Linked DNA regions of Homo sapiens. The protein of the gene in region 5 purifies or fractionates together with the protein of the main gene of each other region. This does not show direct contact. Each region holds a gene or a part of one and is shown on either strand. Other genes may lie near its edges. The genes, in order: ITIH4, DSC2, NEURL1, NOVA2, BRWD3, TSSK4 and WDR13.

The links.
Region 1: the proteins of BRWD3 (region 5) and ITIH4 purify together in Homo sapiens (affinity purification with mass spectrometry, with the first as the bait; one large-scale study listed by BioGRID). This does not show direct contact.
Region 2: the proteins of BRWD3 (region 5) and DSC2 purify together in Homo sapiens (affinity purification with mass spectrometry, with the first as the bait; one large-scale study listed by BioGRID). This does not show direct contact.
Region 3: the proteins of BRWD3 (region 5) and NEURL1 purify together in Homo sapiens (affinity purification with mass spectrometry, with the first as the bait; one large-scale study listed by BioGRID). This does not show direct contact.
Region 4: the proteins of BRWD3 (region 5) and NOVA2 purify together in Homo sapiens (affinity purification with mass spectrometry, with the first as the bait; one large-scale study listed by BioGRID). This does not show direct contact.
Region 6: the proteins of BRWD3 (region 5) and TSSK4 purify together in Homo sapiens (affinity purification with mass spectrometry, with the first as the bait; one large-scale study listed by BioGRID). This does not show direct contact.
Region 7: the proteins of BRWD3 (region 5) and WDR13 purify together in Homo sapiens (affinity purification with mass spectrometry, with the first as the bait; one large-scale study listed by BioGRID). This does not show direct contact.

The regions. Positions count from the first base shown.
Region 1 is NC_000003.12:52,824,173-52,827,672, reverse strand, and holds part of ITIH4 (inter-alpha-trypsin inhibitor heavy chain H4 isoform 1 precursor), read left to right. Parts: intron 1-475; coding exon 476-580; intron 581-719; coding exon 720-882; intron 883-1,021; coding exon 1,022-1,132; intron 1,133-1,658; coding exon 1,659-1,787; intron 1,788-2,358; exon of another isoform or gene 2,359-2,468; intron 2,469-2,714; coding exon 2,715-2,831; intron 2,832-3,107; coding exon 3,108-3,276; intron 3,277-3,335; exon of another isoform or gene 3,336-3,357; coding exon 3,358-3,483; exon of another isoform or gene 3,484-3,500. UniProt on the Homo sapiens protein: Type II acute-phase protein (APP) involved in inflammatory responses to trauma. May also play a role in liver development or regeneration.
Region 2 is NC_000018.10:31,088,922-31,092,421, reverse strand, and holds part of DSC2 (desmocollin-2 isoform Dsc2a preproprotein), read left to right. Parts: intron 1-121; coding exon 122-321; intron 322-1,274; coding exon 1,275-1,394; intron 1,395-2,827; coding exon 2,828-2,983; intron 2,984-3,500. UniProt on the Homo sapiens protein: A component of desmosome cell-cell junctions which are required for positive regulation of cellular adhesion.
Region 3 is NC_000010.11:103,580,705-103,584,204, reverse strand, and holds part of NEURL1 (E3 ubiquitin-protein ligase NEURL1), read right to left. Parts: exon of another isoform or gene 3,216-3,500; intron 1,767-3,215; exon of another isoform or gene 1,621-1,766; intron 1,494-1,620; exon of another isoform or gene 462-1,493; intron 1-461.
Region 4 is NC_000019.10:45,935,866-45,939,365, reverse strand, and holds part of NOVA2 (RNA-binding protein Nova-2), read left to right. Parts: 3' UTR 1-3,500. UniProt on the Homo sapiens protein: Functions to regulate alternative splicing in neurons by binding pre-mRNA in a sequence-specific manner to activate exon inclusion or exclusion. It binds specifically to the sequences 5'-YCAY-3' and regulates splicing in only a subset of regulated exons.
Region 5 is NC_000023.11:80,807,078-80,811,036, reverse strand, and holds the start of BRWD3 (bromodomain and WD repeat-containing protein 3), read left to right. Parts: upstream 1-1,159; 5' UTR 1,160-1,565; coding exon 1,566-1,596; intron 1,597-1,732; coding exon 1,733-1,791; exon of another isoform or gene 1,792-1,994; coding exon 1,995-2,024; exon of another isoform or gene 2,025-2,229; intron 2,230-2,438; coding exon 2,439-2,498; intron 2,499-3,959. UniProt on the Homo sapiens protein: Plays a role in the regulation of cell morphology and cytoskeletal organization. Required in the control of cell shape.
Region 6 is NC_000014.9:24,204,527-24,208,495, forward strand, and holds TSSK4 (testis-specific serine/threonine-protein kinase 4), read left to right. Parts: upstream 1-1,169; 5' UTR 1,170-1,397; coding exon 1,398-1,622; intron 1,623-1,982; coding exon 1,983-2,197; intron 2,198-2,589; coding exon 2,590-2,983; intron 2,984-3,365; coding exon of another isoform or gene 3,366-3,437; coding exon 3,438-3,620; 3' UTR 3,621-3,722; downstream 3,723-3,969. UniProt on the Homo sapiens protein: Serine/threonine kinase which is involved in male germ cell development and in mature sperm function. May be involved in the Cre/Creb signaling pathway. Phosphorylates CREB1 on 'Ser-133' in vitro and can stimulate Cre/Creb pathway in cells.
Region 7 is NC_000023.11:48,603,992-48,607,491, forward strand, and holds part of WDR13 (WD repeat-containing protein 13), read left to right. Parts: intron 1-280; coding exon 281-399; intron 400-856; coding exon 857-1,041; 3' UTR 1,042-3,500.

The DNA.
Region 1 (3,500 bases), on a different chromosome or scaffold from region 5:
CCCTACGTCTGCTTCCTCCTCAGTCCTGGCCCCACACGGCTGCACGCAGGGCTGGGAACAAGTGTGACTCAGAGAGCTCTTGCTGGTGATGAACTAGTTCCCCTGGAACAGTCCGTGAAATGGAAGGGGCAGGTGGGAATGTGGGCCAGCTTCGGCCAGACTGGACAGGTGGAGAGAAGGCAGGATTTAGCCCGGCCCTGCCCCTCTGCAGCCTCCCCTTCGTCCCTTCTATAAAATGAATGCTTACTGTTACTGTACACACCTCCGGGAGCTAGAGGCCTGGAGCACTTTGCAGAGTGCCCTGCACAGGGTCCTGTATGCGGTAGGTGCATAATAAATGGCACTGGGCTCAGGCAAAGATGGGAGTCACTGTGTCAAGAGGCACACCGAGTCCAGAAAGGCTCTCTGGAGGAGGCAGGAGTGGAATGGGCCCCTGCCACCAGGCTCTCAACAACTCCCACCCTTCTGCCCCCAGGATCATCGATGGCATGACCTACCCAGGGATCATCAAGGAGAAGGCTGAAGCCCAGGCACAGTACAGCGCAGCAGTGGCCAAGGGAAAGAGCGCTGGCCTCGTCAAGTGAGCTGGTGGGGGGCAGCTTCAGTGGGGAGGGTCTAGACAAAGGCCACCTTGCCTTTGGCCCTTAGTCCTGCTCCCACCTCTACCAGCCTTACCCCACCTGTCCTGGAGGAGCAGGCCTGATGCCCTTCTCCCCCAGGGCCACCGGGAGAAACATGGAGCAGTTCCAGGTGTCGGTCAGTGTGGCTCCCAATGCCAAGATCACCTTTGAGCTGGTCTATGAGGAGCTGCTCAAGCGGCGTTTGGGGGTGTACGAGCTGCTGCTGAAAGTGCGGCCCCAGCAGCTGGTCAAGCACCTGCAGGTACCTGCTGCTACCTCTTCCAGGGAGGCCTCCTGCATGACCCTTGCCCTGCTGAGGGCGGCCCCTCTTTGTCCCTGAGCCTCCTGTGAGCCCCAGCCCAGGCTCCTGGCTGACCCAGGGACCCACATCTTGCCTCCAGATGGACATTCACATCTTCGAGCCCCAGGGCATCAGCTTTCTGGAGACAGAGAGCACCTTCATGACCAACCAGCTGGTAGACGCCCTCACCACCTGGCAGAATAAGACCAAGGTGGGCCTGTTGTGGTCAGCAGGTGAGGGTACCAAGGGCCCTGCCTTCAGGCCAGCCCTATGAGCCCGGATTTCTGGAAAGCAGGATGGGCTCTCCCTCCTGTGAGCTGTGACCTGGAGAGGCTCCTGAGATCTCTGCATCCTTGCTGTCATTTGGCAGATGGGGAGGGCAAAGCCTAGAGAAGGACCATGGCGTCCTCGTATGAGCCCTGAGATCTGTCTGGGAAGGGGCTGGATAATAGACTGATGTGAGGGTCCTGGGGCCAGGTGGAGAGAAGGAGATGGTTGGATGGCACACATCCTGGAATAGCCTCTGCTTGCGCAGCTCCAGGAACAGGGAGCTCATCACACCCCTCCCCTACGTGAAAGTGGTCCATCAATAACTCAGCCTGAAAGAAAGTGCCCTGGAATACGGACCCAAGGCTGCATCCTGGAATTCTGATTTCCCAATATACAGACAGGGGTAGAGGGTGTTGTTGGCCTGGCTTTGCTGTTCCTCCCAACTTCAGCCCGGATTATTCCTCCAGGCTCACATCCGGTTCAAGCCAACACTTTCCCAGCAGCAAAAGTCCCCAGAGCAGCAAGAAACAGTCCTGGACGGCAACCTCATTATCCGCTATGATGTGGACCGGGCCATCTCCGGGGGCTCCATTCAGGTGGGTGGACTTCAGGCAAGAGCAGAGCAGCCTAGAAGTCTGTCCACCCCCAAGGGCCTGAGCTTGGGTATTTTAGAACAGGAAAAGAACCACCCTTACTTAGCAGTGTGCACCAGGGACCGGCACAGACAGAAAACACGTGATTTAGTTGTGTTGTCCCTGAAACTATTCCCTTTCCCAGGCAGAAAAGGTTTGTCTCTGAGAAGAGCTGCCCTGTGGGGTTTCCCTCTTTGCCTCTGCTGCTGGGAGGCTCACAACTCAGTTTTATGCAGATTTGCAGTAGTTTCTTTCACACTAGTTTCTGGCATTATTATTGTTGTTATATTTTGGTATGATCATGGCTCACTGCACCGTCAAACTCCCAGGTTCAAAAGAAACTCCTGCCTCGGCCTCCCTAGTAGCTGGGACTACAGGCGTGCACCACCACACCTGGCTAATTTTTTTTTTTTTTTTTCCAGTAGAGACAAGGTTGCCCAGGCTGGTCTTGAATTCCTGGGCTCAAGTGATCCTCCCACCTAAGCCTCCCAAAGTGCTGGAATTACAGGCGTGATTCACCACACCCAGCCATTTCTGCCATTGTTATTATACTTCCCTTTTACTCCATGTTTTTGAAGTCTTCCCTCTTTTGATGGTTGTCAGGTTTATGATGTCTGAACTTTTTAGTATAAACCATCTGAAATACTAAAACAAATAGAAGGAAAAGTTGCAGGGAGAGTTCTGGTGGGCTATGCATGAGCAGGGAAGGCTTCCGCAAGAAAGGGGCTGGTCTGAGCCCTGAAAAAGGGCAAGGTTTTGGGGAGGTTAGCAGTGGGATGGAAATGGGATTGGAACAGAGCACAGAAACCCAGAATTTGGGGTAAAGGGGCTGAATGGGGATAGGGCCAATTGTAGCTCTGATGGCCTGGGTGGGTCTCACTCTGGCCACAGATCGAGAACGGCTACTTTGTACACTACTTTGCCCCCGAGGGCCTAACCACAATGCCCAAGAATGTGGTCTTTGTCATTGACAAGAGCGGCTCCATGAGTGGCAGGAAAATCCAGCAGGTAGGTCCTGTGGCCCAGGGCAGGGCCCTGAAAACTCCCAGGCCCTTCACGCTATCAGCTGTGGTCCGGCAGGCAGACCCCCTTGCTTCACCTTTCGGCACCATGGGGCGGGTGGCTCTCAGGAACCAAGGTTGGCCAGAGCCTAGGGCAGCCCCTGTTCCTAGAGCAGATACCATGACCTCACCCCTGAGACAGGAGTCCAAGGATGCCAGCCCTAGGGCACACGAGCCCTCAGGGAGCCCTTCTGAAGCACCTATGTTTCCTCTCCCTGACCAGACCCGGGAAGCCCTAATCAAGATCCTGGATGACCTCAGCCCCAGAGACCAGTTCAACCTCATCGTCTTCAGTACAGAAGCAACTCAGTGGAGGCCATCACTGGTGCCAGCCTCAGCCGAGAACGTGAACAAGGCCAGGAGCTTTGCTGCGGGCATCCAGGCCCTGGGAGGTAAGTGTCTCTGTGGCCCTGCAGGGTGGGGGCTTCCAGGGCTCCTGGCTGGGGACCACCTTGAGAGTGCGTGTTCCTCAGGGACCAACATCAATGATGCAATGCTGATGGCTGTGCAGTTGCTGGACAGCAGCAACCAGGAGGAGCGGCTGCCCGAAGGGAGTGTCTCACTCATCATCCTGCTCACCGATGGCGACCCCACTGTGGGTGAGGGCCCTGCCCGT
Region 2 (3,500 bases), on a different chromosome or scaffold from region 5:
AATTTACAAGTGTCAGTATAATGAATTTTAAGTTTTTGGCTCTCCCCACGTGCATACATTACTGTTAAAACTATATCCTATGTTTTACTTTAAAAATGATTGCTGTGCATATTTTCTACAGTTAACCTGAAAGAGTGCTTTACAGCTGCAAATCTAATTCATTCAAGTGATCCTGACTTCCAAATTTTGGAGGATGGTTCAGTCTATACAACAAATACTATTCTATTGTCCTCGGAGAAGAGAAGTTTTACCATATTACTTTCCAACACTGAGAACCAAGAAAAGAAGAAAATATTTGTCTTTTTGGAGCATCAAACAAAGGTATACAAGGCTACATAAATGAAGAAATGATATCTTTTCTTCAGACGTAATCAACATTACCAGGGAAGATATGAAATCAGAAAGGATATGGTATAGTTTGGCTTAAAGACGAATGAAAACCATGAGGCAACTTCACAGTGTTTAGAAGGAAAAGGGCTGTGTCACATGGTTCATTCGGGTTGTCATTCCTTTTCATTTGGGACGTAAAAGGAGAAATTGGGATAAGGTACAGCATGGGAAAGTGAGATTAGACACAAAGCAGCATTTTTTTTTTGAGCTTTACCGTAGAATGGATTTCTAACAACAAGTTTTGAAACTCTGTATAAAGAAAGGAAAGCTTTTTTCTCGCATTCATTTTAGCATAATCTGTGGTCTTAAAACATAGATAACTATTTTAGGAGGAGGTTTGGACCACATGCATGCTATTGTGTTGTGACACCCAAGATCAAAATAACTTGTATTCAACCATTAGCCATTCCTCACTGCAGCAGTTTGAGAGTTGTCACCGTGTTTCTCTCCTCATTCTGACACAGATCTCTCTGTTGGTTCCCTGGCTCTGCCTAGTTGCTGGTGAGTGGAAGTTGCTTGTGCTAAATTTAGAAGGGCACATACACACTTATTTTCTTTGCATATCTCTCTCCCATGTTTTTGCATGGCAATGGGGCAACAGTAATTTTTTTTTCAGTTTTGCTTCTAGGCTTCCAGTTCCATCTCTCTTTCTTCCATATTTCCACCAAATCATTTTCCCAAGAGGATTGTTGTGATAACAGTTAGGACAGTTACTTCTTCATTATCTTTTTGCAGTGTTGATGATTAGTTTGGTTTTCAAGCACTCCCATGGTCTCACCCCTACCCAGCTAATCCTCCTGAGAGGAGAAAGATGTGTCATTGTTTAATGTTTGAGAATAAAGTAGTCATTGACTTTATTATTTTTTCCTGTCTTATGAATTGAGGTCCTAAAGAAAAGACATACTAAAGAAAAAGTTCTAAGGCGCGCCAAGAGAAGATGGGCTCCAATTCCTTGTTCGATGCTAGAAAACTCCTTGGGTCCTTTTCCACTTTTCCTTCAACAGGTACCGTTTTCTTTCTTTCTGCTGTGGGAGTCTATAGTTTCCATCTCTTACCATTATGACACTGAGTATGAAGTTATTTGTAATAGTTGTGTATAAATATGTGAGTGAATGAGTATGTGTATAATATGTTTCCATATAAGGGTATAAATATATCTCTTTATACTTGCATACACTTTTGTTCAGCTTGCAAAGGCCAAGCATAAAACTGTGGCACTCAGACACATGGTTCCTTAATGAATTGTCACATCAGCAAGGGTATCGCCAAGCCTAAGAATAGCTAGAAAACCCAAAACTCTCTTGCATAATAAAGGAGAAAATTGGATGAAAGACCAAATGCCACGAAGGAGGAAGACACATAGGCCCTTCTATCTTTCTATTTCTTGTTCTTGAATCTACATCTGAAATCACACTGGATCCACATTTCTTTCTCTCTCTCTCTGTCTCTGTCTCTTTTTGTTTCTTTTTTTTTGTAGCGATGAGATCTCACTATGTTGCTTAGGCTGGTTTTGAACTCCTAGGCTGAAATGATCTCCCATCTCAACCTCCCAAAATGCTGGGATTACAGGCATGAGCCAAGCATACCTGGCTCTTTTTCTCTGTCTTGTTTTAACTTTCAGTAGAAACCCCAGCAAGCCTTCTTGCCTTCTTCCATTACTGGTGGCTACTACATTCAGTCTATGACTTTGGTTTATTTTCCCTCAGTTCTTGACATAGCAAGGGAGAATCCTTTTTATACCCCACCAACAAATTTAATACAGCTGAGAGAAGAGCATATTAAAGTTGAGAAATTGTTAGAAAACAGTTGTGTCAGTTATCCTGATATAAAGATAGGATGTTACTGAGAGGATGAACACAGCTTGGAGGAAATTTGCTTTTCGAATCAAGGATCAGAATATTACACATTCCAAAATATTATTCCATTTCTATTCTCACTCATATTTTTTTTTTTACTCAGTTCCTATAAGGAAGATGTTGGCAAAGAACAAAAAACTCATTAAGGAAATTATTGTCCACATTTTTGCCCTGCAGACAGTACACTTTAAACTCGGTTCTTAAATGTTATGTTACATATAATAAAAACTCAGTTTTTTAAAACATTGACGACAGAATAATTTTCCATGCTCAGAATACTTTGTTTTCTAAGACAGGAAGAGTCTTAAGTGTTTTTTCCATGTATAGACACCATCTAGCCTGTCAAATATTCCTTTAGTTATTCTGGAGAACTAAGATGCACTACATTATTTTACTCATGCCTTGCTCTTGAAATTTCTCAATTGGACTTTCTTATTCTATTGCTGTTTTAATTTATATATAATAATAAATTAAGGGCAATTATTTAAACTAATAAAATGGCAATGAGATTTCATAAATATATAGATGAAAGCTCTGCTGAAATAAAGATTTGTCTCATGTATATAATATCTACTTTCTAGGTTCAATCTGACACGGCCCAAAACTATACCATATACTATTCCATAAGAGGTCCTGGAGTTGACCAAGAACCTCGGAATTTATTTTATGTGGAGAGAGACACTGGAAACTTGTATTGTACTCGTCCTGTAGATCGTGAGCAGTATGAATCTTTTGAGGTAAAGTCTAAAATGTGTGTACTGTATTAGCAATGATGATGCTTGGCCATTTTGTCTCTCATTTGCAATTCACGTAACCTTTTCTGCTTTCTGAGTTTGTCACCAATGCTCTGGCTACTCCCTAATAGCACATAATTGACTTGAAACAAAAAATATTTTCATAGAATAAATAATATTGGATTCCATTAGATTGTTCCTGGTATTATGGTTTTACTATTTTTTTTTCCCCCACAACAGTACCACTTTGAAGAACAGTTTTTTTTTTTTTTTTTTTGAGACAGCATCTCACTTTGCCACCCAGGCTGAAGTGCAGTGGCGTAATCTCGGCTCACTGCAATCTCTGGCTCCGGGGTTCAAGTGATCCTCCCACCTTAGCCTCCTGAGTAGCTGGGATCACAGGCACGCACCATGATACCCAGCTAATTTTTTGTATTTTTAGTAGAGATGGGGTTTCACCATGTTGGCCAGGCTGGTCTCAAGCTCTTGACCTCAGGTGATCTGCCCATGTCGGCCTCCC
Region 3 (3,500 bases), on a different chromosome or scaffold from region 5:
TCCTGGGCTCCTTCCGTCTTATCCCTAGCAGCTAGAACAGCGCCAAGCATTCTGTTGACAAACAGTAACCGTCTGTCGAGTGCACTGACGAAGGCCTAACATCCTGGAAAGCCAGGGAGCAACCACCCCCCAGCAAACACACAGACACCCTCTTTGCGTACATTGTCTCATCTAACCTTAACAATCACCTTTTGAGGCTACCATTGCCATGTCAGGACACAGGCTGAGAAGTAGATCTATCCAAGATACCCTTTTGAAAGTGGCTTAACAGGGAATCAAACTCATCGTTCTTTTTTAAATCATACAAGTTATACAAAATATAAAACGGTATTTTGTAGAAAATTCAGTTCAGCAAAAAGAAAAAACAATCGCCTATAAGCCCACCACCCAGAGAAAAGCATTTTTAATATTTGGATGTATGATCTTTTGGCCTTTTTAAAGGCTGTATTTTTGGGTTTTTTGTTTGTTTGGCTTTTTTTTTTTTTTTTTTTTTTTTTTTGAGACAGGATCTTGCTCTGTGGCCCAGGCTGGAGTGCAGTGGAGATATCTCAGCTTACAGCAACCTCCGCCTCCCAGGCTCAAGCCATCCTCACCTCAGCCTCCCAAGTAGCTGGGATGCACCACCGCGCCCAGCTAATTTTTGTATTTTTGGGGTAGAGACGGTATTTCGCCATGTTGCCCATCTGGTCTCCAACTCCTAGGCTCAAGCGATCCTCCTGCCTCAGTCTCCCAAAGTGCTACGATTAGAAGTGTGAGCCACCACACCCAGCTGGTTACTTTTTTTAGTGCAAAAATTGAGTCATGCTATATAAACATCACTTGTTTTTTACCTTTTATATGTACTACATCACTTTGAAAATGTGATGACATTGACCCTTTTCCCCAGAAAAATGAACATTCTCACTAAATTCTGTAGATAATTTCTCGGCATTCATGAACTACATGAAGCCATTCATGGGCAAGGACTCCAGGCTAAGAACCCTGGTAGCTTTTTTCAAAATTTTCAAAAATTTAACTCCTGGGCTCCTTCCATCTTATCCCCAGCATCTGAACACCTCTCCGTGCCAATAACTGTTTCCAACACCATATTCTTCTAATGGCTGTGTTATGTTCTGCTTTATGGAGTCCTATAACTTTCAATAAAAGTGATCACCATGTTCCATGAATTACCCCTGCAATTCATCCTTACGGCAGCCCGTGGAAGTGTTCCCGTTTTACAGATAAAGCTCAGCGGCGTTATGACAGCCGCCATGTGGCAGATCCAGGATTGAAAAAAAGGTCTGTCCAACTCCTAATGCCGCATTCTTCACTTCCAGACTCTCCTTGTTTATTGAAGCCTTTCTGCGTGAGTCAATCTCTCCAAATATGCCTGGTGCCACTGTAAGCCGCACCATGGACCGATCCCTTCCTTTGGGCCTTCTCCCTGAACCTCTCCAAGGGAGAATCTGTGCTGTCTCTTCAGGAACTGGGTTAAGGATGGCTGGGGTTCTCAGGTATGACAGCAAAGCTTGGGGGATTGGTCTGGTAGGGACAGCAGAGGCCAAAATTCAGTTCCAACTGAATGTAGACATGGTCACTAAACCTCCCTCTTTTCTTTCACCCTTTCACTGCCCCTTCCAGGAACTGTGTTGTCTGGCCCCCAGAAAGCTCTGGGTGTGGGCCCTTCCCCCCAAGCCTCCTGAAGCTCTGGAGAAGCCTCCTGGGGCCTGGCTGATTGGGGTTTCCTGGAATCGTGTTGGCGAGGAGGAGGGAGCCGGCCAGAAAATGTGATTATTCCAGGGAATTGACTCTGTGACAGTGATGGTGCATAGAGGCTGGGGGGCTGCAGAGAGGCAGAGGCAGAGGCCAGGAGGGCCTGTGCAGGGGGGAGGTAGGAGAGACAAATGGTGCAGAGTGGGGGAAAGCCAGTGGGCTGACCTGGACCCTGGGGAACAGTCCCTGCTCCCTCACCCCTCTGGGATTCCAGGCACTGACCCTTGGGAACTTCAGAGGGTGGGAGACAGAGAGGGGAAGGGGCAGTAACAGCAGGGAGAAGAGGAATCAGGTCGCTCAGAGATGTCCAGCCAGAGCCTCCAGGAACACAGCTGTCACAGGGCCCACACCACCCCCTCAGGACAATCAGTCCAGAGCTCCTGGGGCTGGGCAGACCCTCAGAACAGAGCTCTTAATGGGGCTGGATGCAAGCTATCCTGGTCTCTCTGCCCCTTCAGGAGTCCCCTTCTACTTAAACATGCACACTACCAGGTGCTCACTAACTTCCAGGCAACCTGTTCCATTGTGGAGTTAATCTGTCTTTAAAGAGTATTTCCTTCTTTTAAACCAAAATCTACCTCCCTGTATTTAACCCACTACCTCCTGAGCTGCCTATCAGCCCAGTACTGAAGACAATTCTCAGGGAATACTCAGAGTCCCCACACACCTTCCCACCTCTTAGATAATGAACAAAACCAGACTCAGTACTCTAGATGTGCACCAACCAGCTCAAGGCATAGTGTGGCCATCACCTCCCTTGGTATATATGCTATACTTCTAATAATGCAACCTAAAAGTACATTAGGTTTTTTTCAGTAACCAACATTCATATACTAGTAGGCAGGACAGGAGCACAGTTAAGTGCAATGAATTTGAAGTCATCAGTCTAGGTTCAAATCCTGGCCCTGCCATTTCCTGTATGACAGGGCTATATGACTGGACAAATAGCTGAACTTCTTGGGGCCTCTTCAGCAGTGAAATCAGCATCTACTGATTTACATAAAATCTGTATCTAATACTCCCCTTAGAAGAGACGCTGTGAGGATGAAAAGGAGTAAGGTACACAGGGCACCTAATAGGAGACCTGGCACAGTCATTAGGTTAATATAAGCCGTTGTTATTGGCATGTGAAATGCCACATGATTCAGAAGAAAGTGCATGGGCTTTGGGGTGATCCAGGTCTGGATCAGGCCTAGGTTTAAATGTCTGATCCAGCACTTGGCTGGTGGCTTTTGGGTAAGCAACCTTCCTCCCAGCCTCAAATTTCTCACCTAGAGAATAGGGGTAATAATACCTGCCCTGAGTTGTTGTTGGAAAGATCCGAGGTAAAGTGGGACCACCCCCAGCACCCAGAAGCTACCCGATAACTTCAGATATTAGTATTTGCTTGGCTTGAGCACAGTCTCAACTAAAAGTCAGGTACACCTGTCCTCAGACCATGGGCTTTTTGAACCTTAATGCAGGATTTCACATCAGTCATGATGGGTACCCAGGAAATACTCATTGAATGAAATCACCAAAGACCAAGAAGCAGCAGCTAAAATGTAGAGGTGAGAGGATAAAGAAGAAAGAAAGGAGAAACAGTGGAGGATGTACAAAGAGAAGGGGGTAGGAAGAGGATCCCTTTAGCCTTGCTTGAAATCTTGCTAGAGTTGGGAGGGGAGGGACAAAAGCTGCTGGGAAACAGCTAAAAACGGAACGAATCCCTAGGGCCAGTGCCCAGCCCAAGTCTGTCTTCTCTCCCTCTC
Region 4 (3,500 bases), on a different chromosome or scaffold from region 5:
CTTTCAGTTCTAGATCTGAGGGAAGCCATGGGAGTAGAGGTAGCAGAGGCGTCTGAGCTGAAATGGGGCATTTGGAGCAAGGACCCCAGAGTTCCCAGATCTTCTCAGCTACTCTCCTCCCACTGGAGCTGTCCCTCCTAGGTGGGAATGTTCACTCTTTTGTTGTCAGGTTGTATGGGGGGGCAGGGACAGTGCTGCTGGGAAGGATGCCAGCTCTGGGATTGGGCCAGTCCTGTGGGCAAGACTTGCAAGAGGCTGGATCAACTTGGTGTGGTATCTCTGATGGCTTAGAGTAATGGCAATGAGGGTCTCTGTTGTGATGTCACTGAGTACTTTCTGGGGTGCTTCTGGGCACCCCTTATGATGTCACAGGAAGCAGTTCCTCAGAGGTTACTTCCTGTGAACATAAGGGAGCAGGTACTTCCTGTGATGTCTCAATGAGTTCTTCCTTGAAGGTCACTTTGGTGATATCATGGGAAGGTGTACTTCCGGTGATGCCTAGAGGTCACGTCCTGTGATGTCATTAGGCTGAAGCATGTACTTCCTGTATTGGACAGTGACCAGTCTCTGACCTGCCTTCTCCCTCCACACCCTTCTTTGGTGGGTGTTGGCCTGGGGGTCTTCCTAGGAAGAGAATAAGGCACGGGACTTGGATCCAATCTGGAGGACTCTAACGGAAAAAAACCAATATTGTCAGGGTCATCTCCATTCAAACACGTCAAGTCTGCGAACTCGCCCTGGAGGGAGGGGTGGGAGATGGACCTAGTGCAAACTACTGTTAAAGACCTCCCTTCCCACCCCTGCCTTTTGTGTGCATGCCTGTGTCTGCGTGGCTTTGTTTCATTGAATCGGGTGAGCCAAGTGTGTGGTGGCTCTGTCAGGCCAGTATGGCCAGGTGTAGAGTTCAGTGAGCCATAGTAGGGTCCCTTGGGCCAGAATGCTTCGTGTGGTCTGATAGGTTAGATTGGTTTGGTGGCTTCCAGCAAGCTGGCATACTTCGGTGATGTCTGATGGATCAGAATGTTTTGGTGTGCTCACCAGGGGCTCTGGAGAACTAGAATGTTCTGATGGAGTCTGACAAGCCAGGCGGCCTTGAGAGTTGGTTTAGGAGTGGCTCCCTGAGTGCTGTGGCTGTGGTCAGCTCTAAGGACCTGTTGGCAGACTGAGATTTCAGGGCCTGACAACCATGTAGACTAGGATAGCTGAGACCTCCCTCTACCCCCACCCATCTCCCTCTCTTCCTTGGAGACCACCTCCACTTTCTCCAACCCAAAGCAGGGCGCCCAGTGCCCTGGTTCCATCATCAGCATCTCTGGGGGAGGGGCGCCCCATGCCCACCCTCTCCCCCATTTGTCCGCCTCCTAGGTCTTCCAAACCCTTTTCTTCTCTATGACTTTGGGGGAAATCCAGCCTCCTTGTCTCTCTCCTAAAAAAGGAGGGAAGAAAAGCCACAGAGACAATTCCTGCCCCTAAAGCCTAGGAGATCCCTCTCCCTTGCTAGAGAGCCACCCCCAAATCAAAATGTGAAAATCCCTAGAAAGCAATAGCCTTCGAGGTACCTTGCACTGAATTTCCCACCCCAGCCCTTCCACCCGATGGGAGGCTGTAACTTGGGCACTGGGGTGACTTTTTCCATGCCCTTGTCATCTCCAGGGTGGGAGGCAGGCCCCACTTCCCCTCCCCTATCCCCCACTTCCCATTGTTGTTGCCCCACCCCTAATCTCCAGACTGAACCCAGATGGAGATCTGAGTGCCAAAACAATTCTTGATGTAACTTTGTACATATCTTCTACTACCGTTGGGGGCTCTTGGGGTTAGAGGTGGGGGCGGCTCTGTGGGCCATTGCTCCCCTCCACCTCTCAAAAGACCTTACAGTATTTCACAGTATCTCTACCCGCACGCGAGTATTACAGTATCTAGCTGGAATATCCCCCTACAGCCCCCCAGGACCCTATGAGGAAGGGAAGGAGCCAGGGAGAGTGAAGTAAGGTCTGGGACTGGGGAGGTGGGATCTGAATGAACTCATTTGCATATCATTTGCATCCTCCGCTTGGCAGCCGCTTTCTACAAACTCATTCACTGGAGTCTGGGTCCCAATCAGCCGGGTCCAGGACTCCTCTCACACAGACACATCTCCGGAGGCTGGGCCTCCTGAAAAGTGTTTGCTTGGGGTGTCTGTGTAACAACCCCTCCCTATTCATATTTCTTGGGGACCCCCTACCCAGCCAGCCAGGGTGATCTGAAAGGTATACTTTGCTAGCTCAGTGAGCTAGTTCACTCACCATGTTGGTGAGCAGAGAGCCACACCTTTCCCCATTTTACCTTGGGAAACTCACTCCACCATCTTTGCCATCTCTTGAAAGTCCCTTCTGCAATCTGACCTCAATCTTTTGTGCTGCAGTTTGTCCAGAGGGGACACAGATGTGGGGTCAGGGATGAGGATTATTGAAAAACCCATCATCTCTTTTTTTTTCCCCGTCTCCCTATTAGCCAATCCGATCTCAGAGTCTCTGAGTGGCCTCCTTGCACCCTTCTCTTCAGCACCCAGTAGGTGCTTAATAAGTGTTTGCTGCATTGGATTATCTCCCTATTCCTTCTCATTTGCCCTCTAGCTTCCCATACCTTCTCCAAGTGTCTTCCTCCCTTTCTTTGTCTGGCTCCCTATGACTTTCTATTTTTTTTTCCTCCGTGTGGTTCCCATTGTTTTCTGTCCTGTCTCTATCTTAGTCTTTGTCTGTCTTCCTCCTTTCCTCAAATGTCTCAACTCTCTCTCCCCAATTTCCCCATTTAAAAAAAAAAAAAAGTGCCAAACTTCCTTGGAACTGAGCCGCTCTGGGGGGAGAGGACCTTGGATAGAGGGGAGGAAATGGGACCATTTCTCTTTGAGGAGGTCCCTAAGAGGCATTGCAAAAGTGTGGACATGGAGCTAAATTGGGTCCCCCTTCCACAGCCCTCCCACCCTGAGTTTTTCTTAGAATCTTTGTAAGAAAAAAAAAAAAAGACAGAAAAAAGCTCTCCTTTTCAACTTACCCCTATCCTTTTGGGTCCCCCCAAATTCCACCAGCCAAGGAGAATCCCACTTGCCAACTTCCTGGCAAATCTATGGAAACTGGGGAGGAGGAGACAAGCTCAACTCCTCCTCTGCTAGCCCAAGGGGCGGTACCAACTGGATTCAAGAGAAGGACCTCAAAGCTCCTATGAGAAGAGGGGGTTCGATGTGCCAAATTAACCTCCTTCATCCCCCATCTCAGGGGGCTCTGAGCCAACCTGCCCAGCCACCTTCTTCTGCCCTGTCCCAGCCACCTCTACATGGGCAAGGAGGCTTCACTGCAATAATTAGTAGGGGTGGTGATCAGAAGACAATGATTTTGCCGTTTCTATCTGCCCTAACGCCTACCCTGGACTTGTAGTTGGGAATTATGGGTATCCCAAGTGGATGTTGATAAAAGCCGACCTATAGATGGTTGGGGACCTCTACTTGGAACACCAGGGTGTCGCTT
Region 5 (3,959 bases):
ATGTCAACTTAGAAATTCAAGGCCCACTGTGGTCAGTGGCAGAGCTGAGTGAGGAAACCCAATTCCCAAGAATATAGCCTTAAATTTAGATGAACCTTCAAATTGTAATATTTCAATGTAAATAATACATGCAACTTAAAATGCATTTCTGGTCTCATCAGGTTTAGGTGAGGGAGTGGGGTGGGGACAGGATGTTACGGGAAAGTAGGGAAGAAAAGGACCCGGTTTACTAATCTGTGTCAATTATCATACCAACCCCTTTCATCATTGAAGATTTCAGCAACCAAATACTGAAGGTCAGTGCGGTACCAAGGGTTGGGGTTATATATTAAACAGTGTAGTCCCGAACCTGTAGAAAACTATTGATACCTTGCATAGAGATAGGCAATAATACATAAAGATTATTGAAAACTCTTGGTTAAAGTACTTTAGTAGTATTTGAAAACACAATAGGAAATTACCCTGTAGGAATGGGATGTGTTAGATCCCAGCCGTAGATACGGCACGTGTTAAACTTTCAGAAGGGGAAACATGCTTCACGGCTGATTGCAAATTTCTCATGCAATATTTGTCAGAATCCAGGAGCATTTTAAGTGGTCTTCTAACAATATAAGCCCCGCACTTTGGACTGGTAAGTACAACATTTTCATTTGGTAAATAATAATAATTTTAAACAGAAACAAGTCACGACCAAATAGCGACTCATCCTCCCCCAGGCATAAAACCCTTTAGCCAGCTAGCCGCCTTTCCACGGGGTAGAGTATAAACAGCAAACAAAACCGCTTTGGTACCGGGAGGAAAAAGGGGAAAGGAGTCGAGTCAAAACACCGTCTCTTAAGTTCCTCAAGATCAACCCAGGGGGAAGGGTCCTCCACCGGAAAGGGCCGGATTGCCTTCACAGGAAGGGAAAGTCACTCCGGAGCTCGCAGACGCGAATGCCACCACAGAGTTCCAAGGCGGCTGCCAGAGCGTCGGCCGTCAGTTAGCACCTCCCCCTCCTTCCCAGAGCTGTAGCTAAGCAACCATCGGGCTCCGGGAGAGTCTAGGCTCAGCTGCTGTATTAGTGCCTCTAGCGGGGAACTATGAGCGCTGCAAAACCCTATCACCATTTTTACCCTCCCCTCTCTCCACCCCCTTTGCCCCCGCCCACCTCTTCGCCACTTCGGCTCCTCCCTCTTCTCGCTCCGTCTATCTCTCTCTCTCTCTCTCTCTCCGCCCCCCCACCCCCCGCGTCTCTCTCTCTCTCTCTCTCTCTCTCTCTCTCTCTCTCTCTCTCTTTTTCCTCTCTCTCTCTCTCTCTTCTCTCTCTCTCTCTCACTCACTCACTCTCTCTCTCCCTCTCCCTCTCCTCTCCTTCCTCCTCCGCCTCCTCAGCTCTTGGGCTAGAATATCTATGGGTCGAAACGTGATGCGATGAATTCGAGAGAGAGCGAAACTAGGACGAGGAGTGCGGCGGAAGCGGCGGGACTCCCGGGCATGGGGGCTTCACCACAATAGAGGCAGCGCCCCCACCCGCCCCCGCCAGCCCCTCCGGAGCGAAGCCCCCAAACCCCCTCGGGAAAAGGATGGCGGCAGCACCTACCCAGATCGAAGCCGGTGGGTAGCTGTGTCGGGGGGTGGGGGGGTGCTAAGGGAATGGGGGCTTAGCGCGAAGGCTGTCAGTTTCTTTTGAAAAAGCTTCTATTTCTCTTCTCTACCTCCCTCTGAACCTCTTTTCCCCCCTCTTCCCCAGAGCTGTATTACCTGATCGCTAGGTTCTTGCAGTCTGGACCCTGCAACAAATCCGCTCAGGTAAGGGGAAGAAAGAGATCTGGGAGTCGTGGTGAATGGTCCCAGTGGGGAAATCGAGGCAGCGGGACGAGCAGTTCCGTTGAGGGTGAGGGAAAGGCCGGCCTTGACTAGTCAAACGGTCAGCGGCTGGGCTTTAAGTGTGGAGGGAGGAATGGGTTGATGGCCCGAGCTGCTCCTCATATCTGTGTTTCCCTTTTGCTCAGGTGCTAGTGCAGGAGCTCGAGGAGCATCAGGTACGGAGCCCCTTCGGGAAGGGTGGGGAGGGTTGAGGTGAGACTGGAGGAAGGGGAGGGCAAGTCAGGGGCGGAAGACGGGCTGGGATAGAGGCTTCGATCTGGGTACCCGTAGCTGTTGTCACCGGGGTGAATTGGCTTCTTCCCTCAAAAGGGGCAGACAACGCTGGGGTCTTAACTCGTCCCCGCTTTATGCTTGTGGGAGGCAGTTTTTCAGGATTTCCTTCTCGACCCCCCTTCCCCCCCCCCCCCATATACTTGTCTAGCTCTGAGCCAATAGCTATCAGGCCGAGAGAAATAAAGACGGTAAAGTGTTGAGGACTGGGACACAGGTTGGGTCCAGTTGATGGGGAGCGGAGGCTTTTCCTTCATCATTTGCCTCCGCTTCCCCCTTTCTTTTCGTCCGGCCCCCAGCTGATTCCGCGCCGCTTAGATTGGGAGGGGAAAGAGCACCGAAGAAGCTTCGAGGATCTGGTGAGTAAAGTTTTCATTTCAACTTAACCTAACTCTTTCACCACTCCCTCCCCACCTTGTACCCCCAACCCGCCCCCCACCTCTCAGCCGACGAGGTTCTAGAGCTCGGTGCAGAGCCAAAGAACGACTGCCCCTTCCCCCATCCCTGCTAGTCGGAAAAAGGGTACCTTGCCCTCCCCTTGGCCCTGCTTGTTTCCACCCGAAAACTTTGAAGAATGTGAGTTGATTATCAGAGGTGCCGTGTTGTGGATTATGAATATGTTACAAACATTGGGGAAGGCCCATTGTAGGCGGAAAAGGGAGAGAAACCAAGGGGTTATCTTGGGGCACGTACTAAGGTCTGACGCTGGCCAATGACAGCGTTGGTAACAGCCCGGAGTTCCGGATTAGTGGAAGAAAACTGGTTTCTGGTTGGTCCTGGCCTGAAATACGGGAACTAAGGCCAGGCTTGGTCTTTTTTGGGGGGGGCGGGGGGGCAGGGGGGAGGCGTGGGAGGAAGGGGCTCTGGAGGGGAATTGACGGACCAGGGATTAGGAAAAACGACATAATTAAAAATAATAAGGAGCGTCAAGCCAATTTCAAATTTTGCCGGTTAGGTAATGGTCTACTGAGTAAAAGCATAATCGTTACGTATCTCCGATTTTATAAGCTCATTCAATTATCAGTTAAGTCGCATTTGCATAGACCCGTTTTCACTAAATAGAAACTGAGTTATCACTTTTTGAGAATTGGTGAAACACGATTTTGGGTTTACAAGGAGACAACAATGGACATATTTAAAAATGGAATATACTTTAGTGAAGGACCAAAGGCATTGGTCTATGTTGTTTCTCCTGCAAATATAATTCATAGTATAAATGTACCTTGTGTTCAGCATTGACACACAAAAACAGGTGATCCTTTTTATTTTGCGGGGGAGGTTCCCTTGTGTTAGCTGCTGCCACAGTGCATTGGAGGGTAGTGAAAGGAGAAAGGAATGATGTTACTAAAATCTAAATTCAGCTATCTTTCCTTCAAGTAAGATCCAAGTGGAGGAAAATCGGACAAAGTTAAAGAAAGTTGGCGGTGTATGATAGACTCTAAATATAAATGATTTAAAATTTGCTTGCAATAAGACTATATTTAAATTGCTTCAATGTTCATTTTGTTATTTTTGTTTGTGTTATCTTACAACAGTGAGGCCACATTATTATTATCAAGTCTACCGACTGTATAGTTTTCTTATATTTTGCAAATCACAGAAAATGGTATAATTGTGATAAGGGTAAACTCGACCATCTGTATTATTAATAGTAACAATTTCTCAGATGGAGAAAAATTAGTTTTGAAAAACTTCATGTACTGCCAGGTTAATTTGTAGTCAGTCTTTCTGTTGGACTTAAGTCTTTCCCTCCCCCTAAAAGAGGCAAAAACAACAGTGCCTACTAATATGTTTTAACACTTAATGACTGATACAGGTTT
Region 6 (3,969 bases), on a different chromosome or scaffold from region 5:
CACAGAAAAGTCTGAGAGAAGAAAATAAGTTCAATTATTGATATGGTTAAGTTTGAGATGGATATGGTAAGTTCCATGCCTGGGGCAGACATGGCCACGTAATACTGGCTGCTCTATCTAAACTCCAGATATATGGGATGGAGATGAAATTAGGAGCAGTCAGCATAAATGTAGTATTGACACCATGGGTATGGACAAGATTAAGGGAGGATGTGAAGGTTTGAGAAAATAAAGCTTGTGATGTAACACTTGGGATATGATTAAGGGATGGATAGAGAAAGATATAACTTCAGTGAAGGCTGAGGAGTGACCAGAAGGATGTGGAGGAAAACTAGAGAGTTCTGGCTCATAGAAGATAAGGATGCATTTCAAGGTTAGATTTTCCTAGAACATGTTCAATACCTTACAATGGTAATACTTTCACACTCGTATTTCTCATGCTGCATTATAAGCTTTAGGATCATAGTGTCTCTATTGGCCTTATTGAACTAAGGGGGCTGCAATGGGCTCGGAAAGCCTTGAGTGTATCATTAAAGAGATAAGTAGGAGATAGCAGAGACAGGATTTGATGAAAGATTGTATGTAGGGATTGAGGAAGGAGGAAGGGTCTGGCATGACATTTGGGTGACATTTTATCCAAGTATTCAGCACAGTGTCTGGTACTTAGTAGGTACTCATATATCAATGAAAGGTCTGATCTTTAGGAGTTTCACCAGACTGTGGAAGGTGCCTCTGGGAATGAGTACGTTTCCAACTGCACTTCATTCTCTTTTTTTTTTTTTTTTTTTTTGAGACGGAGTCTCGCTCTGTCGCCCAGGCTGGAGTGCAGTGGCGCAATCTCGGCTCACTGCAAGCTCTGCCTCCCAGGTTCACGCCATTCTCCTGCCTCAGCCTCCCAAGTAGCTGGGACTACAGGCGCCCGCCACTACGCCCGGCTAATTTTTTGTATTTTTAGTAGAGACGGGGTTTCACCGTTTTAGCCGGGATGGTCTCGATCTCCTGACCTCGTGATCCGCCCGCCTCGGCCTCCCAAAGTGCTGGGATTACAGGCGTGAGCCACCGCGCCCGGCCGCACTTCATTCTCAAGTTTTGTGGCCAACGATGGATAGGAGGTGGATTGTGATGTATTCGGAACATGGGACCTTGAGGAGTTCCGTAACCAAAAGGAGAAAGTAACAACAGCCAGTGGAGACAAAAAGAACTGCTTCTCTTTCTTTCCCCCTCCAAGTTCCTAGTGGAGGGCTGAGTCCAGCATCCCAGACTCGTGTGACTATATAGGCAAGCATTTGGGGACCTACTTCACTTTGATACCCTAGCCTTCAGCAGCTCAAGGTGTTGGCCTTTGGATAGGAGGCTTCCAAGTAGTAAAGCTCCCTGCTCTCAGCAAGCCCAACACCATGGGGAAGGGAGATGTCTTAGAGGCAGCACCAACCACCACAGCCTACCATTCCCTCATGGATGAATATGGTTATGAGGTGGGCAAGGCCATTGGCCATGGCTCCTATGGGTCGGTATATGAGGCTTTCTACACAAAGCAGAAGGTTATGGTGGCAGTCAAGATCATCTCAAAGAAGAAGGCCTCTGATGACTATCTTAACAAGTTCCTGCCCCGTGAAATACAGGTTGGAAAGGGGGCTGGAAGAGGGAACTGGAGCTTGGTACTAAGCTGCTTGAGGTTTCTCAGAAGGGGTATGGCCAGGAGGGGTGGGGCCAGAAACCCCTAAACCAGAACTGAAATGTCTCACTAAGCAGCTAGGAAACTTTATGTAAGTTAAACCTCTTTCCCATCCACCCACTCACCTTCAGTCCCCAAAAAGTAAAGGCACAAAACATAGCATTTGCCCACAGGCCACCAGTTCTCTGGGGTTGAGGGGCTGATCCTATTGCAAAGTCCTAAGTCAGTAGCTGAGGGTAGGAGACGGCTGGGAGTGCAGTCAGGGTTCTCCCTTCCCAGGTTTGATGGGTCCTTCTTCTGGGGTCAGGTAATGAAAGTCTTGCGGCACAAGTACCTCATCAACTTCTATCGGGCCATTGAGAGCACATCTCGAGTATACATCATTCTGGAACTGGCTCAGGGTGGTGATGTCCTTGAATGGATCCAGCGCTACGGGGCCTGCTCTGAGCCCCTTGCTGGCAAGTGGTTCTCCCAGCTGACCCTGGGCATTGCCTACCTGCACAGCAAGAGCATCGTGCACCGGTGAGGGCGCTGCCACCCAGACTGGGGCCTTTGCCCTCAAGGGGGTTTTATGCACATCTCCCATTTCCTGTCCTTTTTTCCTCTTTCGAACTCCCTCCTCAATATCTAGCCTATTCATGCACTCTATTTTAATCATATGGTCAAGGATACTGATAAAGTACTCACTGTATGCAAAGCATTTTATGAAATACAATGGTGAGCTCCCGGTGGTCCTCAGATACCATCCTCTGTCTCTCTCCCTACTTTGGGCTCTGCTCACAACTCCATGGCTTTCCTTCCTCTCTACCTTGTGCCCTCATAATGGTTTCTACCTCCCACTTCCTCTGTCCTCATCTTTACCCTCTGACCCCTGGCCCTTCAGCTCCCAGTCTAAAACTAAGCCCTCTCCCCAGCCTGATGCCCAGCCTTTCTGCTGCTGGTAGGGACTTAAAGTTGGAGAACCTGTTGCTGGACAAGTGGGAGAATGTGAAGATATCAGACTTTGGCTTTGCCAAGATGGTGCCTTCTAACCAGCCTGTGGGTTGTAGCCCTTCTTACCGCCAAGTGAACTGCTTTTCCCACCTCAGCCAGACTTACTGTGGCAGCTTTGCTTACGCTTGCCCAGAGATCTTACGAGGCTTGCCCTACAACCCTTTCCTGTCTGACACCTGGAGCATGGGCGTCATCCTTTACACTCTAGTGGTCGCCCATCTGCCCTTTGATGACACCAATCTCAAAAAGCTGCTAAGAGAGACTCAGAAGGAGGTCACTTTCCCAGCTAACCATACCATCTCCCAGGAGTGCAAGGTACTGGCTACCTAAGGAGGGCTGAGCCTTCAGGGATGACCCACAGGGAGGGGTGAATATCCAACCTAGGTCACCCAACCTAGGCCTCCCAACCCTGGGGAAAGGCTCTTCCCACACCAGAGCCATCTCACACACTAGCTCCTGTCCTATAATAAACAGTATGGAAGGCATAAAGGGCCAACCACTAGGCTCCAAACCTTGCCTGATACACAGGTTCCAGCTTCTTTCTCTTTAGGCCAGAAGGGAAATATGGAAAGCATTCCTCCCAAGGAACTCTTCCCTTCCCCTCCAGGGAGTTAACTGCCTGGGTCTCCAAGATAAAATCAGAGCCACACCCACTTTGACCAGAGTGGTATGATGGGCTATCCTGCTTCTTTCTTAGGTCCAACTGCTCATTGCCTGTGTGGCACAATGGAGAAAAACTCAGGCAAGACCTCTCTCTCCCCTGCTCTAGAACCTGATCCTCCAGATGCTACGCCAAGCCACTAAGCGTGCCACCATTCTGGACATCATCAAGGATTCCTGGGTGCTCAAGTTCCAGCCTGAGCAACCCACCCATGAGATCAGGCTGCTTGAGGCCATGTGCCAGCTCCACAACACCACTAAACAGCACCAATCCTTGCAAATTACGACCTGAAAATGGCTGAGGGAGGGGGCTAAGAGAGGAGCAAAGCAGGAGGTCTTGGGCTAAAAATCTTTTTTACCAAAAATAAATCTAAGTCTGATTTAGTTTCATCAACTAGGGTCAAAGACATTCTTTTCTCAAGGCAATCTTATAGCAGGGAACACTGCTGGAGTAAGAGATAGATTTCTGCCCAGAGCCTGTAACCAATAATCTTGACACTGTGTTAAATCAATAGTGTAATTCATGATGTGGCTCTTAGGGGATGGGGTGCTCAGATTAACGCTCTATTTTGGGAAGCTTTATTATTCAACTCAACATATGCTCATTATTTTACATCTTTGTGCTGTTTAAATGCTCAAGT
Region 7 (3,500 bases), about 32 Mb from region 5:
GCTGGGTGTGGTGTGTGCCTATAGGTAGTCCCGGCTACTCGGGAGACTGAGGCGGGAGGATCACTTGAGCCTAGGAGGTTGAGGCTGCAGTGAGCCGTGATCGCACCACTACACTCCAGCCTGGGTGACAGAGTGAGATCCTGTCTCAAAAACAAAAAAAAAAATATGGGTTTCATGAACCCTGTAAAGAACTTAGGCACAGGGGTGGGGACACAGGCCCACAACTTGTCTCCCTGCTAGGGCTGGGGCTGTGTTTTGACCCACTCTCTCATCCTCTCAGGGTGGTAGACAACGAGGGGACCCTGCAGCTGAAGAGAAGCTTCCCCATCGAGCAGAGCTCACATCCTGTGCGCAGCATCTTCTGTCCCCTCATGTCCTTCCGCCAGGGGGCCTGCGTGGGTGAGTCCTGTAGGGACAGGGGATCTGGGTGGCTGGGGAGGGGCAGGAACCAGGGCTGGTGCCAACCTGGCTCAGACATCACGACACCGATGCCCTGACTTCCTGGACCTCATGACCCCTCCTGCCCCAACAGCCTCACTGTGGAACTCACAGCTCCAAACAGCTCAGAGAACTCACAGTTTGCACTTGATCTCGGCCAAAAGGCCGAGAAGTGATGAAAACTCACACTTTGAACGCACTAACTCCCCAAACAGCCCAGAGACCTCGCATTCTGCACACAGTACCAAAACAGCCAGGTGACCTCCCATCTAGGGATGGGGCCCCCTCAAACCTCCCCAAGCCATGCTAGGACCTCACACCTCGGACATACACCCTTCAACACCTCAGACACCTCAGGGACTTCCCACCAGGGGCACCCCAGGCGCCTCCCGATGGCCTCTCCCTCTCACCCCGACAGTGACGGGCAGTGAGGACATGTGCGTGCACTTCTTTGATGTGGAGCGGGCGGCCAAGGCTGCTGTCAACAAGCTGCAGGGCCACAGTGCACCTGTGCTTGATGTCAGCTTCAACTGCGACGAGAGCCTACTGGCCTCCAGTGACGCCAGCGGCATGGTCATCGTCTGGAGGCGGGAGCAGAAGTAGGGTCCTGTCGGCCCTGCTGCTGTCCTCCATCCCACCCCTCTTACTCCAGCCTCGTGTTGTAAATAAAGTTTCGGTGGTCATGCTGAGGGCCGGCTCCCAGCTCTGCCGGGGACGGACAGGGCAGAGGGCAGCGGGCAGCTCCAGGAACACGGTGGAACGGGGTTCATTGACTCATTTGTGCATTCATGCATCGACGGATTCATTCATTCCACAAGCATTGATTGAATGTCTGCTGGGTTACAGGCCCTGCCTTAACTGTTTTACACACTTATGCATTCGATAGACATTAGTGAGCCCTGACCGTGTGCCAGGAACTGTTCTAGGCACTGGGGATACTGCTCTGACCTAAACTGATGGAAATGCCTGCCTTCATTGGGCTTGCATCATAGCGGAGACAGTAGATAAAAACATGGAACAGGCCAGCTAATGATGAGTGGTATGAAGAAAATAAAGCAAGGATGGGAGACAGAGCTGCAGAAGTTGGGGGAGTGGGCTCTTTATGGTGACAGCATCAGGGAAGATGATCCTGACAGGGTGACTTTTTTGTTTTTGAGACAGGGTCTCACTCTGTCACCCAGGTTGGAATGCAGTGGCATGACCATAGCTCACTGCAGCCTCAACCTCCAGGGCTCAAGTGATCCTCACTTAAGCCTCCCAAGTAGCTGGGACTACAGGTGTGTGCCACCACACTCGGGTAATTTTTGTATTTTTAGTAGAGACGGGGTCTCGCCATGTTGCTCAGGCTGGTCTTGAACTCCTGGGCTCAAGCGATCCACTCGCCTCAGCCTCCCAAAGTGCTGGGATTACAGGCATGAACCACCACGCCTGGCTCAGGGTGACATTTAAAGACCTGAATGAAGTGAGTGGGAGTCATAGTGTAGGGGGAGAACATTCCAGGCAGAGAGAAAGCCAGCCTAAAGGCACTGAGGCTGGAGCGCTCCAGAAGGATCATTGTGTATGCCAGAGTCTTGCTGGACCAGAGTGTGACAGTACATGAGGTCAGACAGGCCAGATGCTTCATGGGCCACAGTTAGGACTTTGGCTTTTTTTCTGAGTGGGGGTGACCAGAAGGTGTCAAGCAGAGGAGGAACATGATCTGACTTGGTCATAGAGGCTCCCTCTGGCTGCTGAAGGGGACAGATTGGGGGTGGGGGTAGAAGCAGGGGACCCAGCAGGAGACCCCTCTGAGCGCAGTGATGGGGACTTGCACCAGGGTAGTGACAGTGGAGGAGTTGGCGGGGGAATGTTGGGTCGGACCCCCAGGGGGTTCACTATGTTAGGCTGCAGGACTCTGCTGCCTCCTCAGGGGGCGATATTCCCAACCCTTCTGTGCATTGTGTTGTTTATTAAAAGCAGGGAGCAGAGGTGTTGAGTCCTGGAGCCCCAAGCTGGTGCAGGAGCAACGGGAAGTTAAGGCTGACCTGGGGCCTCCTGCTGTGTGGCGGAATCTCCATCCCTCAGACCACCCCTGTCTCCTCCCAGCCCCATCCAGGGTACAAATTCCAGCCCTGGAACAGCTCAGAGACCAAAAAGTGATGTTAAGTATTTGAGGGGAGCCCCAAGAGAGGAGAAAAAGCTTTGAGTATTGATGGGGGTAAATAACCAAAATCACTTATCAGTGGCCTGCGTCACCAGAAAATGTCAAAGTTACCTGAAGCAGCAAAGAGGCTCTTGCTCCGGCCCCTCCCTTCCTTCTCAGCTCCATTTGTTGCCACATATGCGTTGACTGGAACTGCGACTGACATCTTGGGACCTTAGGGTCAGTCCACAGCGTGGTAGAGACTCCAGCTTGGCCCAGCATTGCTGAGCTGCTGAACTCGCACCAACAGTCTTGTTGGAGGGAAATAATCTCCCGTTTGTTCAGTCCAGTTATTTGACAGTGTGGTTACTTGCACCCCAAGCATTTCTAACTGGCACTTCCATCTAATAGACCTCAGGGTACATGGTGGTGAGATAGGGACATCAGTGAGCTGGATTGTTCCCATGGTAAAGGTCATGTATGTGTGTGTGTGTCATGGTCCTCAATACCAGCCCCAAGCCCAGTGATTTGCTAGGAGGACTCCCAAGACTCAGTATGTGGTTGTATTCATGGCTACGATTGACTTATTACAACAAAAAGATATGGAGCAAAATCAGCAAAAAGAAATGGTGTGCAGGACCAACTCCCAGAGAGACCCAGGCACAAGTTTCCAGGGCTTCTCTCTCATTGGAGTCACACAAGATGTGCTCGGTTCACAGTAATGGGTTGTGACAATACATGCGAAATGTTGCTGACCAAGGAAGCTCAATTAGAGACTCAGCACCCAGAGGTTTTTTTTGTTGTTGTTGTTGTTTTGGTTTTTTTTTGGCGGGGGGGGGGGGGTCTTGCTCTGACGCCCAGGCTGGAATGCAGTGGCATGATCTTGGCTCACTGCAGCCTCCACCTCCTGGGTTCAAGCGATCCTCGGGCCTCAGCTTCC